Linked DNA regions of Homo sapiens: region 1 is linked to region 2. Evidence: fine-mapped expression QTL. A gene starts in region 2. The other region holds a variant in brackets. All regions are shown on one strand. Distances are between the middles of the regions.

Region 1 (5,367 bases), 65 kb after region 2:
CTCTATCTTTACGGCTGTGGGAGTGGTCAAGATGATGGTCTGGGGTCCTTTCCACCGTGGCCGCAAGGAGCCTATGTTCCAATCCTTGATCCACACCTGATCACCTGGGGAGAAAGGGTGAACTGGGGAGAATAAGCTGCCGGGGCACCTCTCATTTACCCAGGCTGAAATTGTGTAATTTTCCCTAAAGCCTGTAGCTGTCGCTGTAACGCAATTTCACCTAGCTCTCGAGGAGTGCCTGGGAGTCCCCGTAGTATGGGAGGGGGCCTATGATATAATATTTCATAAGGGGAATATCCTGTTCTTCTAGAAGGGGTACATCTAATCTTAAATAATACCATAGGGAGAGCTTGTACCCACTTTAATCCTGTTTCTTGACACACTTTCCCTAAACTATTTCCGATAGTGCGATTCATCTGCTTCACCTTTCCGGAACTTTGTGGTCAGTAGGTGGTATGTAGTTTCCATGTGATCCCCAATACCTTTGCTGTCTTCTGTAACAAGTCAGCCACAAATGCCGGCCCGTTGTCTGAGCTGATTTGTAAGGGCAGTCCAAACCTAGGGATGAGATCTCGGAGAAGCACATGGGTTACTTCACGAGCTTTCTCGGTCCGTGTTGGATAGGCCTCCACCCACCCAGAGTATGTACACACTAGAACTAGCAAATACTTGTTACCTCCACATTTGGGCATCTTGGTGAAGTCTACTTGGAGATCTTCAAAAGGGGCTGCTCCATAAGCTTGTATGCTGGCGGGGATGGTTAGACCTTGCCTAGCATTGTGCTGCCAGAAGGTGACACACTGCTGCGCCACTGTTTTGGCAAGGGCTGAAAGATGCAAGATGTAGAAGTACCAGCCTAACAACTTTTCAAGTGACTCTTGGCCTAGGTGGGTGGTCTCATGCACAGCCAGTATGACTGCGGCTCCTAGCAGTTGTGGCACAGCTATTCTTCCATCCGATAACTGGATCCATCCCTCTTCTATCACCTGCCCTCCCTCTGCCTGGAGAAAGTCCTTCTCTTTAGAATAAGTAGGTACAAGGTCAGGTGCCTGAGGGAGCAGGGGGCTGTGACTGATGCCTGGTAGGGGGTGGATGCTGCTTTTCGAGCCTCTGAGTCAGCTTGGGGGTTCCCCAAGGCAATCGAGGTAGAAGCTCGCTGGTGTCCTCTGCAGTGCATGAGCCACCTTTTGGGGCTTCCACACTGCCTCTAATAATTGCAGGATCTCTTGCTGATACTTTATGTCTTTTCTCCCAGCGTTCAACAGGGCTTTTTCCTTGTAGAATGCCCCACGCAGTTGGAGAGTTAAAAAGGCATACCAAGAGTCAGTGTAAATGTTTACAGTCTTACCTTCACTTAGCTCAAAGGCCAGAATTAAAGCAATGAGTTTGGTCTTGCGGGCTGAAGTGCCCTAGGGCAACGATTTGGCTTCAATGACAGCATCCAGGATTACCATATCCTACACACCTCTCTTCTTGTGGGTCGACAAAGCTGCTCCCGTCCACGTACAGCTCCCAGTCTACTGTTGTCCAAGGATGGTCTCGGAGGTCGGGCCTGCTAGAATAAACTGACTGCAACACCTCTACACAGTTATGTTCAACTTGGCTCTCTGATACCAGGAGCAAGGTGGCGGGGTTCAGGGTGTTGCAAACTTCAATGGTTATGCGGGGATTCTCACAGAGCAAGCTTTGGTACCTAGTTAGTCTAGCATTCGTTAGCCAGTTACGTCCTTTGGTGTTCATTAGTGTTACCACAGCATGGGGAGGCCTTTATGTTTTTTCTTTTTTTTGAGATGGAGTCTCACTCTGTTGCCCAGGCTGGAGTGCAGTGGTGCGATCTTGGCTCACTGCAAGCTCTGCCTCCCGGGATCACGCCATTCTCCTGCCTCAGCCTCCCGAGTAGCTGGGACTACAGGCGCCCGCCACCATGCCCGGCTAATTTTTCTGTATTTTTAGTAGAGATGGGGTTTCACCGTGTTAGCCAGGATGATCTCGATCTCCTGACCTCATGACCCGCCCGCCTCAGCCTCCCAAAGTGCTGGTATTACAAGCGTGAACCACCGTGCCCAGCTAGGGGGCCTTTATGTTTAGGTTTTGCCCTAAACATAAAGTTAGGGCAAGAGGTAGCTTATCTGCCTCTAGTGCTAGCAGGGCAGTTGCTGCCAAGGCTCTTAAGCACAGGGGCCAGGCTCAATTATCGACAGATAATTCTTGTCGATACTGGTGCTGAACATTCAGTAGTAACCACCCCAGTCGCCCCCTTATCCAAAAAGACTATTGATATAATTGGAGCCACGGGGGTTTCGGCAAAGCAAGCTTTCTGTTTGCCCCAGACCTGCACTGTCAGGGGGCATGAGATAATTCACCAGCAATTCATCCTGCCTGGACTTTCTCCAGGCAGAGGGAGGGCAGGTGATAGAAGAGGGATGGATCCAGTTGTCGGATGGAAGAATAGCCATGCCACAACTGCTAGGAGCCGCAGTCATACTGGCTGTGCATGAGACCACCCACCTAGGCCAAGAGTCACTTGAAAAGTTGTTAGGCTGGTACTTCTACATCTCGCATCTTTCAGACCTTGCCTTAGAAACTCCATCTAGCTCTTTGGAGAGGTAGGCTAC[C/T]GGTCTTGGCCAGGGCCCCACCATCTGGATTAAAACTCCAATGGCCATTTTTTCTCTCTCTGACACATACAGTGTGAAAGGTTTTGTTAGGTCAGGTAGCCCCAGGGCTGGGGCCGACATGAGTTTCTCTTTTAACTCATGAAAAGCTCATTGCTGTTGGGACCCCCATTTGAAAAGTTCTGTGTCTCCTCACTTTGTGACTCCGTACAGGGGCTTAGCCAATACTGCAAAGTTTGGGATCCACAATCTGCAGAACCCTACAGCTCCTAAGAATTCTCTCACCTGCCTTCTGGTCTTAGGCTCCAGCAGGTTGCAGATGACTTGCTTTCTTTCTGATCCCAGGCTGTGCTCTCCCTGTCGGATAGTAAATCCCAGGTAACATACCTGCTATCTGCAGATCTGAGCTTCCTTCTTGGACACCTTATACCTATAGTCCTCCAGGTGCCAGAGCAGGGTATCCATTCCCTTGGCACACATGACTGCCATGGGGTGTCCCAGCAGGAAGTTGTCAACGTACTGGAGCAGCACGAAGCCTAGGTCTCTGGTGGGAATTTTCTGGAGGTCTCGAGCCAGTGCCTCCCCGAAGATGGTGGGGGAGTTCTTGAACCCTTGGGGGAGCCGGGTCCAAGTGTACTGAGTGGTGACAGCTGACTCCAGATCCTCCCACTGAAAGGCAAACAGTTTTTGGCTCTCAGGAGATAGTCTGATGCTAAAGAAAGCATTTTTTAGGTCCAAGCAGGTGAACCAGCTGTCCTCAGCTGGCAGCAACCCCAACAATGTGTATGGGTTGGATGCAAAGTCACTTTGCTTGGTTGACCATATGCAAATCCTGTACTGGCCTGTAGTCCTTGGTCCTCAGCTTGGGAACAGGTAGGAGGGGAGTGTTCCATGGAGACTGACAAAGGACTATAATTCCAAAGGCCCTCAGATGCTTGAGATGGACCCGGATGCCCTCAAGGGCTTCTCTGGGGACCAGGTACTGCTTTTGCCTGACCAGCTGGGCCCCAGGCTTAACTTCTATTAGTATGGGGGCCTGGTTGATTGCCAACCCTGGCGGGTTGTCTTCCTCCCACACCCTTGGCCACCGCTTAGCCAGAGCTGGTCCTATCTCTTGGCCTGGCTCAGCTAAGAAGAGTCTCCATTCCTCCTCCCGAGGAACCATAAGGGCCATGATGACTCCCTTTCCAGGTAACTTTAGCTGTAAAGAGCCATGCTTTGTAAAAGAGATAGTGGCTCTCAGCTTGCTAAGTAGGTCCCTTCCCAGTAAAGGCAAGGGGCAGTCAGGCATGTACAGGAACTGGTGAATTACCTCATGTCCCCCGACAGTGCAGGTCCAGGGCAAACAGAAAGCTTGCTTTGCCGAAACCCCCGTGGTTCTGATTATATCAATAGTCTTTTTGGATAAGGGGGCGACCAGGGTGGTTACTACTGGATGTTCAGCACCAGTATCGACAAGAAACTCAATGTCCTTGCCCCCGACTGTCATTCTGACCATGGGCTCTTTGGGTGCACATGAGCCTAGTCCCCCTCAGTCCAGTAACCCTTCTGCCAGATTAAACAAGGCCCTTTCGTCCTTGTCTGAGGCCTCCTGCTCAGTCACCTTGTTTCCCTTTCAACTGGGGGCACTTGTCCTTCCAACATCCCATTTCCTTACAGTAAGCACACTGGTTACGCTGCAAGCGTGGATGGCCGGACTGGGTATTTTTCCTGGGGCCCCCCTTTCTCGCCCCTTCGGGGGGGACCCCTCTATTGCTGTGGCTAGCAGGTCGGCGTTTCGCTGGGCTTGGCGTTCGCTCTCTCTGCAGTTCTCTCTGCGGCTTACAGCATCTCTATTCACAAACACCTGGTTGGCTATCTCCAATAACTGTGAAGTGTTCATGCCTGCAAACCCAGCCTGCTTATGTAGTTTTCTTCTAATGTCTTCTGCACTTTGACTAACTAAAGCCATGTTAATCATGCGCTGGTTTTCAGGGTTGTTGGGATCAAAGGGAGTATACATACAATAGGCCTCACATAGTCTCTCGTAAAATTGTGCTGGACTCTCTTCCTTTCCTTGAATAACCTCAGATATTTTATTTATATTGGTGGCCTTCTGAGCTCCTTTCTTTAACCCTTCCAGGAGGGCTTCCCTCTACCAGTTTAGCCTTTGCATACCCTGTCTTTCATTTGGGTCCCACTGGGGGTCTGTTCCTGGTAACTGGGCCATCACATACTCTTGGGGGTTTTTGTAATCAGCCGGAACATGTTCCTCTAGCCACTTAGTCGCTGCTTGGAGCACCCTTCGCCGTTCATCCGTGTTAAACAGGCACATGAGCAACTGGTGGCAATCAGCCCAAGTAGGGTTGTGGGTCTGGATAATAGTTTGGAGCAAATCAATTATAGCCTGAGGCTTTTCAGTATAGGATGGGGTATTGTTTTTCCAATTGAGGAGATTGGCAGAGGTGGAGGGTTGGTACACAAAGGCACGCCTTTCCACCATATGCCCGTCCTCGTTTACCCCAGTATACCGTTGCTCTCTCAGGGGCATTTGTATCCCAGTTTTAGGCCTCAAATGGGCTACCAAGTGAGGAGTTTCTCCTGAGGTCTTGCATCCTTTCTTTTCTACTCTAGGTGGCCTAGGGGTATGTAGGCCTTGTGGAAGCTTGGGCACAGTGGCCTCAGGAGTGGGAGGCCTTCTTTCTTGGTGAAAGGAGGGGCCACTGGCACTGTTTCTTGCCATGAATCCTTTGATGTTGGGTCGGACAGGACTTTA
Region 2 (5,300 bases):
GTCCTAGTCCATGCACCCTGGAGATTTCCGTGAGGAATCCTAGGGCTCTGTGACTCACCTAGGGCAACTCCTGCCTTGTCCAGATGGGATCATCAAGAAAAACCCTTAAAGTAAGATGGCACTTGAGGCTCAAGCCAAGGGGGTATTGGGAAGACGGCTCCAAGATTTTAAAACCTATTGCTTGTGTGACCTTGGATGAGTCACTTAACTGCACTGGGCCTCAGTTTCCTCATCGGTAAAGATGGGGATAATGATCCTTCCTACCCCATAGAGTTACTGTGAGGATTAAATGAGTTAATAAACGTAAAGTGCTTAGGGCAGTTCCAGGCTCACAGTAAGTGCTCTAGGGCATGGCACACAGGAGGCACTCAATCAGAATTTTTAAAATGAAAACAAAGCACCAAGCTTCTCAAGCTATAAGATCCATGACTTCCAAGCTGTAGGCCTCCTCTCTGTGTGACTCTGAAGTACTCTGACGTCTTCATCTGCCAGTACCTTGGGGTGCCTGTGGGAGGCCAGGAATCCGAGAAATCTGGGCCAAAGGGCAGGATGAGGGCACTTACCTGAGATCTCTGAGAACTTGGGACTACTACCACCGCCCACCAAGGCCAGAAGGTTGGAGCGGTGCAGCATCTCCACCAAGCCCATGCTGCCCACCTGCTCGTGGTCTGGACAGGGACCAGGGTGTCAGTGGAGGTGGGAGCCAACGCCCAGCCCAGCTCTTCTGCCCATTGCCCCTCCCCTGCCAACAGCTCACCCAGATGCCCCTTCTCCATCAAGGGCTCCACGTTGTAGATGCGCACACCTGTCTCCATGGCGCAGCAAAAGCAGCCTGGGGGATGGAAGGAATCCAGACTGCCTTAAAGAATGCCCAGGTAGGAAGCTGGGGGCCCATGGCCCACTTCTGACCCCTCTTTTCCTCGCTTCCTCCCACAAGGGTACAGGCCCAATCCTCTCTCACTTTGGTCTTGGTTGAAACGCAGGCTGGTCACTCCTCGAAGTGGCTGTTGAGTCATGGTGCAGGATTGTTCCTCTGCATACAAATGGGATAAAGATGAGAAGAGTCCTGGAATCTCCCCTCCAAGTTCTGCCTCACCTGATTTCCTCCTCCTACTCTGCTAACTACTGACTCTGGAGTGACTGCAAAAAAGATAAAAACAGGCCAGGCGTGGTGGCTTATGCCTGTAATCCCAGCACTTTGGGAGGCCAAGGCGGGTGGATCACCTGAGGTCAGGAGTTTGAGATCAGCCTGGCTAACATGGTGAAATCCCGTCTCTAATAAAAATACAAAAGTTAGCCGGGTGTGGTGGGGGGCACCTATAATCCCAGCTACTCAGGAGGCTGAGGCAGGAGAATTGCTTGAACCCGAGAGGCTGAGATGGCAGTGAGCCGAAATCGAGCCATTGCATTCCAGCCTGGGTGACAGAGCGAGACTCCGTCTCGGGGGGAAGAAAAAGATAAAAACAGAGAGTCCCAGGGTCTCTGCTCTAAGCTCCCAAGATCCCAAACAACATGGCCAGGAACCCTCCTTCTTTCAGGTTTGGCAAGCTCCAGGCCCACACTGACGTGGACCCCACACCTCCTCTTTACATGCTGGCCCTCACTGACTTGTCAGGAAGTAATGTGATAGGGGGTGCCCCCGTGATATCTCCTCCCCACCGCCAGCCAATCTTGATCCCAATGCCAGACATGGCCTGGAACCACTCCCAACCCATTTCTCATCTTCAAACCTGACCTAGCACCGGACTCTCTCAATAAATAGACAAAAGTGGGCTAGGAGATGCACTTCTTGTACCTCCCTGACTTGGCCCTGGGACTGCTATGCTTGGTCTGCCATCCCCAGGAACTCCTCTGCTCATACCCTTCTAACTGTACCCCAACCTATTTGACCACCCCAGAGTCCTCTCACACCTTTCCCCCTCAACCGGCTTCCCCAAACTCCTTCAGGATGCCTACCTTGGGATGACCCCTTCTCATGCCTTGGTAACTACCCTTCAGGGCCAGCCTAGACATTCCCTTAGATTGGCTTATGCCCTGGGGACTCTACCCTAGGATTCCCCCTAGCACTCTAAATTTTCCACCCCTGGGACATCTCCTTCCTTGTGTTCTGCTGTCCTTGACTACAACATAACCTGGCCTGGACCCAACCCCAGGAACCCCCCCCATCCTCCTAAGATTCCCCCTCTAGACCCCTATCCAAGACCCCGCCCCAGGGCACCCTTGCCTTCTAAGACCCTTGCCCAAAACAAACCACCCAAAACTCCTACCTAGGAGAACCTCAACCCCTAAGATGCCTGCGCAGTCCCCTACTAAGATTACTGCCATAGAGCCCCCAACTTCCCTTCAAATCCTCAACTCCCCAATAACTCTGGCCAGACATACTCCCTCCCCCATCCTCCAAGAGTCCAAATCTCCTTCCTTTCTTTCAGTTACACCCTCCACTGGAATGCCTCATGCTCTTTCTTTGGACAGCTCTGCCTTAGAGTTATTCTCTGGACAGCTCCAACTTTCAACACCCCTTTTTTGCACCTCCATTCCAAGACTCTGTCCGGGATGCCTCGCCCCTCTCCCAAGACCAGCCGCATGCTCCTTCCAACGCCAGCACCCACTCAAGACCTCTGCCTTAGACCCCTACTCGAAAGACTTCCAGCCTCCCCCAGACCCAACCAACCCTGGGATCGTGCTCCAGCTTCCTGCCGCCTTCACCGGCCTGACCTCCGCGTGTCCCTGACCCGGGCCCCAGCTGTCGGTGCCGCCCGCGGCCCGGTTTTCTGACCTCCCGGGCCTTGGAGCCCGGCTCGGGTGTTTACATCAGGCCCTACTTCCGGGGGAGGGAGCCTGTCGCAGGAAATGACTCACCCCAGCTGGAAAAAGGCGGCCACCGCCTTCCTCGCCTAGTTCCCGGGTCTTCGGAGCATCGCGAGTGACAGTGGGGTTCTCCGGGGAGGGCGCGGGGAGCGGAGGAAGGTTGGCTGGGGGACCGGAGGCGAAGGGGGTTCCTCAAGGCCGAGACTGTCTGAGGGAACCCGGAAGGGTGGGGAGAGAGAGCGTGCCTTGCCCCCAGCAAAGCGAAACCGGCCAAGCCCTCAGCCCCTTGGTCACCCACAATGGGGGAGTAAACCTTCCCTGCTAACAAGACGCGGACCTCCGCGGCGGCCGAGAGTAGCCGCCCCGGTTCGCAACACACAGTCCTCCCAGGCTTCCAGAGGGGCGGCGCTGGGGGTTACAGGCGGGGGCGGACCTGGAGACCTTGAAAGTGGAGAAACCTCCTTGGCTCCGGGAAGCCAAGGAACAGATTTCGCTTTCTTTCTCCCCACCCTGTCCCCCCAACCCCGCCAGCTCTGAGTTTTGTCTTTTGTGTTTTGTTTAGTTTTGTTTTCTGAGACAGAGTCTCGCTCTGTCTCCCAGGCTGGAGTGCAGTGGCGCGATCTCGGCTCACTGCAACCTCCGCCTCCCGGGTTCAAACGGTTATCCTGCCTCAGCCTCCGGAGTAGCTGGGACTGCAGGCGTGCGCCACCACGCCCATCTAATTTTTGTATTTTTAGTAGAGACGGGGTTTCACCATGTTGGTCAGGCTGGTCTCGAACTCTTGACCTCAGGTTATCCACCCACCTCGGCCTCCCAAAGTGCTGGGATTACAGGCTTAAGCTACCACGCCCGGCCTCTGCTTTTATTTTTACAAAATACAAAATAGCTTTTTGATAGTAAAAGGTATGAATGCTTTGGGTTAAAAAAAAAAAAAAAAAGAGGTCCTACCTATGATAAAGCTTTTAAAAAAAGGCCCCAAATTATATGCATACTGGAAGGAATTTTTTTTTTTTTTTTTTTTTTTGATTAACAGAGTTTGGCTCTTTTTGCCCAGGCTGGAGTGCAATTAGCGCGATCTTGGCTCACCACAACCTCCGCCTCCCGGGTTCAAGGGATTCTTCTGCCTCAGCCTCCCCAGCCTCCCAAGTAGCTGGGATTACAGGCATGTGCCACCACGCCCAGCTAATTTTGTATTTTTAGTAGAGACCGGGTTTCTCCCTGTTGATCAGTCTGGTCTTGAACTCCTGACCTCAGGTGATCCGCCTGCCTCGGCCCCCCAAAGTGTTGGGATTACAGGCGTGAGCCACTGCGCCCGGCTGGAAGGATTTTTAATTAAACTTTACATTAAGAAATAATAAATAGGCTGGGCGCGGTGGCTCACGCCTGTAATCCCAGCACTTTGGGAGGCCGAAGCAGGCAGATCATGAGGTCAGGAGTTCGAGATCAGCCTGGCCAGCATGGTGAAACCCCCTCTCTACTAAAAATACAAAAAGTTAGCCAGGCATGGTGGTGCGTGCCTGTAGTCCCAGCTACTCGGGAGGCTGAGGCAGGAGAATCACTTGAAGCCAGGAGGAGGAGGTTGCAGTGAGCAGAGATCGCACCACTGCACTCCAGCCTGGGTAATAGAGTGAGACTCTGTCTCGAAAAAAAAAAAAAAAGCCGGGCGTGGTGACACGCGCCTGTAATCCTAGCTACTGGGGAGGCTGAGGCAGGAGAACCACTTAAACCTAGGAGGCGGAGGTTGCAGCAAGCCCAGATCCTGCCATTGCACTCCAGCCTGGGAGACGAGCGAAATTCCCGTCTCAAAAAAAAAGGGCTGGGCATGGTGGTGCATGCCTGTAATCCCAGCAATTTGGGAGGCCGAGGCAGGTGGATTGCCTGAGCTCAGGGGTTTGAGACCACCCTGGGTAACACGGTGAAACCTCCTCTCTACTAAAATACAAAAAATTAGCCGGGCGTGGTGGCGGGCACCTGTAAGTCCCCTACTTGGGAGGCTGAGGCAGGAGAATCATTGGAACCCAGAAGGCAGAGGTTGCAGTGAGCCAAGATCGCGCCACTGCACTCCAGCCTGGGCAACAGAGGGAAACCCTGTCTCCAAAAAAAAAAAAAAAAAAAGAATATTCTTGAAAAAAAAGAAATATGCTTTTTGCAGTGGCAGTATCATAGCCAATGAGGTTTAGCCAAGGTGTGGATATTGCTAATTGGAAACTTCCCAATACCCCGCCCCGAAGACTTGCAATATAGTCGGCATTGGCAATTTTTGACAGTCTATGAAGACTGAATATTAAAGAAAAAATACAGAGAAATCTCATACTTTTAATACAATCAGGGTTTCACATTGATGAAATCCCCCCTTTACTTTTTTTGAAGTATTGTTTTGATGCTTCTGTTTTTTCATATATTAATATATAAGAACATCTTTTTAACTCATCCTTTTTAACTGGTTCATGATATTATGTAGCATTGTTCAGCCCTTCCCCAACTGATGGCTG

Alleles and levels. Positions count from the first base shown, and alleles are read on the strand shown. Sizes are in standard deviations (SD) of each study's normalised expression.
As copies of T replace C in region 1, the expression in sigmoid colon of the gene that starts at base 2,808 in region 2 goes up (moderate effect, 0.53 SD a copy in GTEx).

Evidence for each region. PIP is the estimated chance that this variant, and not a neighbour inherited with it, causes the effect.
Region 1: its variant is fine-mapped to the expression of WDR45 in sigmoid colon (GTEx, PIP above 0.99). The same link has a PIP of 0.9 or more in esophagus mucosa and spleen.

What each region holds. Positions count from the first base shown.
Region 1 is chrX:49,142,239-49,147,605 of GRCh38, forward strand. LOC105373195 (a long non-coding RNA gene) reads right to left here. Exons shown (of 3, transcript XR_007068230.1): 3 at 1-3,281. Among named protein-coding and RNA genes, the nearest start is that of MAGIX, 18 kb to the right of the region's middle. The variant C/T (reference allele first, on the strand shown) is at 2,616.
Region 2 is chrX:49,077,080-49,082,379 of GRCh38, forward strand. It overlaps WDR45 (WD repeat domain 45), which reads right to left and starts at 2,808. Exons shown (of 11, transcript NM_001029896.2): 1 at 2,672-2,808; 2 at 962-1,033; 3 at 758-832; 4 at 564-668. The coding sequence starts at 1,016. It also overlaps the pseudogene RNU4-52P. RefSeq lists enhancers at 110-1,309, 2,759-3,259, 2,971-3,265 and silencers at 2,971-3,265, 3,508-3,577.